Linked DNA regions of Homo sapiens: region 1 is linked to region 2. The links come from fine-mapping of genetic effects on plasma protein levels. Region 2 holds a variant in brackets. A gene starts in the other region. All regions are shown on their reverse strands.

Evidence for each region. PIP is the posterior inclusion probability: the model's chance that the variant is causal. Protein levels are from antibody-based Olink assays in UK Biobank. Linkage for the fine-mapping came from a reference panel and not from the study's own genotypes, which makes the PIPs less certain.
Region 1: it holds the start of FGFBP2, and the variant in region 2 is fine-mapped to the plasma level of the FGFBP2 protein (UK Biobank, PIP above 0.99).

The regions. Positions count from the first base shown.
Region 1 is chr4:15,962,069-15,964,990 of GRCh38, reverse strand. It overlaps FGFBP2 (fibroblast growth factor binding protein 2), which reads left to right and starts at 1,816. Exons shown (of 2, transcript NM_031950.4): 1 at 1,816-2,553. The coding sequence starts at 1,862. The coding sequence ends at 2,533. RefSeq lists an enhancer at 945-1,786.
Region 2 is chr17:68,904,711-68,907,632 of GRCh38, reverse strand. ABCA8 (ATP binding cassette subfamily A member 8) reads left to right here. Exons shown (of 40, transcript NM_001288985.2): 19 at 1,470-1,589. Among named protein-coding and RNA genes, the nearest start is that of ABCA8, 49 kb to the left of the region's middle. The variant C/A (reference allele first, on the strand shown) is at 1,472.

The sequences.
Region 1 (2,922 bases), not on the chromosome of region 2:
AAACCCCATCTCTACTAAAAACACAAAAATTAGCCTGGCATGGTGGTAGGCGCCTGTAATCCCAACTACTCAGGTGGCTGAGGCAGGACAATTGCTTGAACCTGGGAGGTGGAGGTTGCAGTGAGCCAAGATTGTGCCACTGCACTCCAGCCTGGGTGGCAAAGTAAGACTGTGTGAAAAAAAAAAAAAACCTACCTTTAGCTGGTTGTGGTGGTTCACATCTGTAATTCCAGTGACTCCAGAGGACAAGGAAGCAGGAGGATTGCTTGAGGCCTGGAGTGTGAGATCGGCCTGGACAACAGAGTGAGACCCTGTCCCTAAAAATTTTAAATTTAAAATTTAGCTGGGTGTGGCAGCCCATGCCTGTAGTCCCAGTTACTTGAGAGGCTGAGGCAGGAGAAGTAATTGAGCCCAGGAGTTGGAGGCTACAGTGAGCTATAATTACACCAGTGCAATCCGGTCTAGGTGACAGAATGAGGCCAAAACAAACAAACAAACAAACAAACAAAAAAAACACCTGCCCTTTACCCTTTCTCAACCTGACAAATTGACTGACTTGTCTTGAAGGTTTGGCACCACTTCTTGGAAGCTTCCTCTGCTCCCCACCTGGGGTGATGCCCTCTTCTGGAAGGCTCTCACTGCTACACACACAGTGGCTGCCGAAGCTCAGCCTGGCTTTAGTTCCAGCCCTACTAGGTCTTCTCAGGACTCAGGATATCCAGGTGGAAGGAAGGCTGTGCCAGGTACCAACTACCCTACGTGGGATCGCCAAGATAAATCCCTCACATTCAAACTAGTCCCCCAACATCCGTCAACCCTATTCCTAACAGCAAATTGCCACCTTTAGTCCACTCCACAGTGCCCTCTGGAAGGGTCATCAAAAGACAGTTATGACCATACCAAACTATGATTCTTGACACAGAATCAAAAGTTATTTTCAATTTATTTTTTTTCTATTGTAGAACAATAATAATAATATTTAAAATCATATTTTCCTGTGATATAATTAAAACTGTGTTATTTCAATTGAATTTGAAATAGAATTCATGGTCTAAAATAGACTGAATCCCACTGTGAACATATATTTGCATGCCTTCCTCGTCATCATTCAGTTGGTGCAATTGTAAGGCATGCAATAACAAGGGAAGTGAACATTGCAGCACTGTGGCCTGTGGCCACGGTGATGGCGGGACAGCCCCACAGAGGCCACACCAGGTGACTCTCAGCTCGGTGGGTGGGAGGGGGAGTGTCTCTGTGTCCCTCTGGCACACACATCCTCACACAACCTCACATAGTCTTTTTTGCATTTGCTAGGCCATCTCATAACACTTAGGCTCATAAAATTCTGGCTTCCTTTGGATTAACTAAACCCATGGTCCCCCAAGATGGGGATTCCAGGGAGCAGGAGGGAGCCTCGAGGCAGCCCAGACTCCCAGCTGCAAACCTCACTTTCCAGAATACCACTGCCACACCTTGGCATATACCAAATGTTGACAAAGAAGGCTGTTCCCGTACAAGGGCCAATTTTAGAGCAAGCACCCTGTGGTTGGAAAACTGTAAAACCCTCAGCCCCAAAGCTGTGTGTGGCGCTTTGTGCGTGACAGGGCTGGGGCAGATCTCTCTGAGGCACTCAGGAAAACCATTCCCTTTGCTTGTGGTGGGCGGCCCCTGGTGGCTGCTCTGCCCTTGCCAAGTGTTACGTGTCTAAGGTCTGTGGGCATGTTTCTCATTTGCTGCAAAACATCCTCCCCACCCTTGCAGAGAAAGAGTCTTTTGTGCAGCACCCTTTAAAGGGTGACTCGTCCCACTTGTGTTCTCTCTCCTGGTGCAGAGTTGCAAGCAAGTTTATCGGAGTATCGCCATGAAGTTCGTCCCCTGCCTCCTGCTGGTGACCTTGTCCTGCCTGGGGACTTTGGGTCAGGCCCCGAGGCAAAAGCAAGGAAGCACTGGGGAGGAATTCCATTTCCAGACTGGAGGGAGAGATTCCTGCACTATGCGTCCCAGCAGCTTGGGGCAAGGTGCTGGAGAAGTCTGGCTTCGTGTCGACTGCCGCAACACAGACCAGACCTACTGGTGTGAGTACAGGGGGCAGCCCAGCATGTGCCAGGCTTTCGCTGCTGACCCCAAACCTTACTGGAATCAAGCCCTGCAGGAGCTGAGGCGCCTTCACCATGCGTGCCAGGGGGCCCCGGTGCTTAGGCCATCCGTGTGCAGGGAGGCTGGACCCCAGGCCCATATGCAGCAGGTGACTTCCAGCCTCAAGGGCAGCCCAGAGCCCAACCAGCAGCCTGAGGCTGGGACGCCATCTCTGAGGCCCAAGGCCACAGTGAAACTCACAGAAGCAACACAGCTGGGAAAGGACTCGATGGAAGAGCTGGGAAAAGCCAAACCCACCACCCGACCCACAGCCAAACCTACCCAGCCTGGACCCAGGCCCGGAGGGAATGAGGAAGCAAAGAAGAAGGCCTGGGAACATTGTTGGAAACCCTTCCAGGCCCTGTGCGCCTTTCTCATCAGCTTCTTCCGAGGGTGACAGGTGAAAGACCCCTACAGGTAATACCCTTTCCTTTACTCATATACAGAGACTACGTGTATATACTTATATACAGAGACTACGTGAGAGGCACTTAGCACTTTCACAGCTGCTGCGACCACATCAGAGTCTCAGCGTGTGTTTGGGGGTGGGTTTGAGGCTGTCTGTTGCAGAGCAGTGTAGATGAGGTAGTTCATCCGGAGTGGCACTTGACCCTGGAGTTGCATAGGAATCACCTACAAGGAGCTCTAAAAATGCTGATGCCCAGGCCCCTCGCCAGACCGTTCCATCTATGTCTCCAACATAGTAGCGCAGGAATGTGGACTTTTAAAACTCTCCCCCAAGTGATTTGAATGTGCAGCCAAGGTTGAGAATCTCCTTGTGATGGA
Region 2 (2,922 bases):
TACTGAAACATAATCAAAAGAATAGTACAATAACTGAATTATTTTCTGTATAGTGGGAAATAGAATTACATTCTAATAGTTGTATTGTAATGCCTGGGCATTTTAGAGGGCTTCTTTTAGTCCTTCTTCCCTAGTAGTGTGTAACATAATATTCTAGTATTCATAAATGTACACAAACCCAAATGGTTGAAAACCTCTGGCTTATGCACTACATTAAACAGCCCTGTGATGTGGCTATCTGTCTCGGTGAGACTTTTGCAATAACTTTGGGTTTTTCAGGCTAACGCATAAAAGTTTACTAACTATGTTTGTTGTTCAGGGAACTTGTTCCTTAACAATGGGGCACTATAAGGGCCCACATTAGTGGTTGAAACAATTAACCTTGCTGTATATGTGGTTAACAAAGACATATACATTCATTCAAATACACATTTTATGGTGACAACACAAGCATTCCTTAGAATCATCAGGAAAGTGTTACGCAAATTCTGATTAGTACTTTTTAACAGTAATTATAATTTAAAGAAAATTTGTAGACGTTTTAGGTGGAATGAAGAATGATGCATAATACTCATTATTAGCTTAAATCTTACTTCTTTTCTACCTTTCTGTATGAGGTATTCTAGTCAAGACAAAAAGCTTTTAACCTATCCTTTTGCCCAAGCAGGAGCTCCAGATGGAAGCCTCAGGACTTCTGTAATCACCCTAGTATTAGAATTAGGTTTTTATTTAAGCTTGATTTAACCACTGTAATTCAAATCCATGCAGGCAGGGGCACTGTTCACTGCTTCATGAACAATGACAGATGCGTAAGTATATTTTGGTGAACGAACTAAAGAATGAATAGATATAAAATTGCTAGAGCGAATAATCACTGTCACAATTCCAGGAAAATTCCCTGATTCAGTTCCACATTCTCTGCCTGTTAGGTCTTGTGAATTTTTTCTTCCATTGTTAGAAACAGAAAATTTTTTAATGGTTTATATTCTATGTCTTCTCTTTAACAAATATTTTCTAAACTACAGAAGATTCTACACCATCCAATTAATTCTCAAAAAATTAATTCCTTTCCTTTTGTCAGTTAGAACATAAATGGCTCCCATTTATATCTGTTCTCTAGAAAAGACTTTTCAATTAATTAGGCTTAGAGTTGAAAAACCCAGAGTCTCACAATTAATTAAATTTTAAAAGGAAGTCAGAAAAAACTAAGATTAAACTTTAATAGAAATGCAAATGAATATAAATTAATGTTTGACAAAGTAATATTTGGGTTGTAACACATGATGTAAAATAGAAAATAATATATAGAATTTGCAGAATAAGATGATCTATTATGAAATGTTAATTTTCAAATGTTTTTGACATATCACAAGTATAGTTTCATAGATTTGTGCTTATTAGTTTGAAAAATTGTCTTCAGTTCACTTGTGATTCTTGTTTTAATTCACTGCTGTATATGTATTCTTTAGAA[C/A]TTTACAAGGATCTTGATAGCTATCCTGACCTAGGAATTGAGAATTATGGTGTTTCCATGACAACTTTGAATGAAGTATTCCTGAAGCTAGAAGGAAAATCTACAATTAATGAATCGGGTAAATAAAATGCATGAAAATTATTATGTAAAAGCACATATTTCAAGAACACACTGTTCCAAAGATGTGATTACAAAATGTGGGGTTCATGATTAAGGCTCTTCTTAGACAAGCTTGTGTAAAAATGAAACGCATCCCTGTCAACATTGCTTTGTAGTTAAAAATAATCCATTTTTCTACATCCAAGGCTCACTGCACTCATATTAGCTCTAGGCTTCTAAGGGCAATTTCAGATAAAACATTTATTCTAAATCATAAATTAATATAAAACATGAACCCACAGATCTAAAACACTTAAGAACCCCAAACAATACTTTAAAATGAAACTATTAAATTCCTGTAGGCCAGCAATAAAGAAGAGAGTCTTAATTAGACATATTGTACTGTTCCACAGATATCAGATTCTCTGGTGTCAGGTTTTTCTTTTTTTTTTCTTTATGTTAGAAATTGGACACTATCTATCCACCTATTTTCAAGGTCACAAATAACTTATTCTCTTGTGTTCAGACTGTTTTGAAGCCGAACATAATAAACTCTCTATTTCTGATACTGCACTTTTTCATTCTAACATTTTCATTTGTTCTTTTTTAGAGTTTCAGTTCTTTACTATTTCTCATCTGCTCTCAATATTGTCCATATTTTCCAGTAGATCTTGTAACATATTTATCATAGTTATTTTTAAACTTGTGTATTTTAATTCTAACATGTGGACCGTGTGACTGATGACCGTTATCAGTAACTGACTCTGATTTTTTTTCCTCTTCCCTATGGGTTATATTTCCCCGCTTCTTCATATGTCTTGAAATTTGTATTTTATCATGGATGTTACTTTAACAAAACAGGAACACTGAGGTAAACAATGGCCAGAAAATGGCATGACTCTTCCTCTGTCAGACTACTGATGTGGATGGCAGAACTGATCTAATTTGTATTTGGCAAGTGCCTGGGCTTTTGCACAGGTTTTATTAGATTCAGTCCACTCCCAGCTTCGAATGTTTTAAAGGTAGAATCAGGTCTTTCCCTTAGACGTGACTTTGAATTATAGCACTGGAAAAATTCTATATATTTCTCTATAGCCCTGCTATCAAATATCTCAATAATGATTAATCTCACTGATTTTCAGCCTGTCATCACTTTTTGTTTATTTATTTGTTAGTATACATCTCTCCACTCCTCATTCAGTGACTGGACCCTAGTGGACTCATGTATTACACAAAAGGAAAGACCCATGAACCCTGATGATGTCTTGCTCAAGACACTATGCAGCTTCTTGTGTTTCTCTCTCCGTTTTTCTGAGTATCTGCCCCCAGCTACTGCTGTACTGTTCCTATGC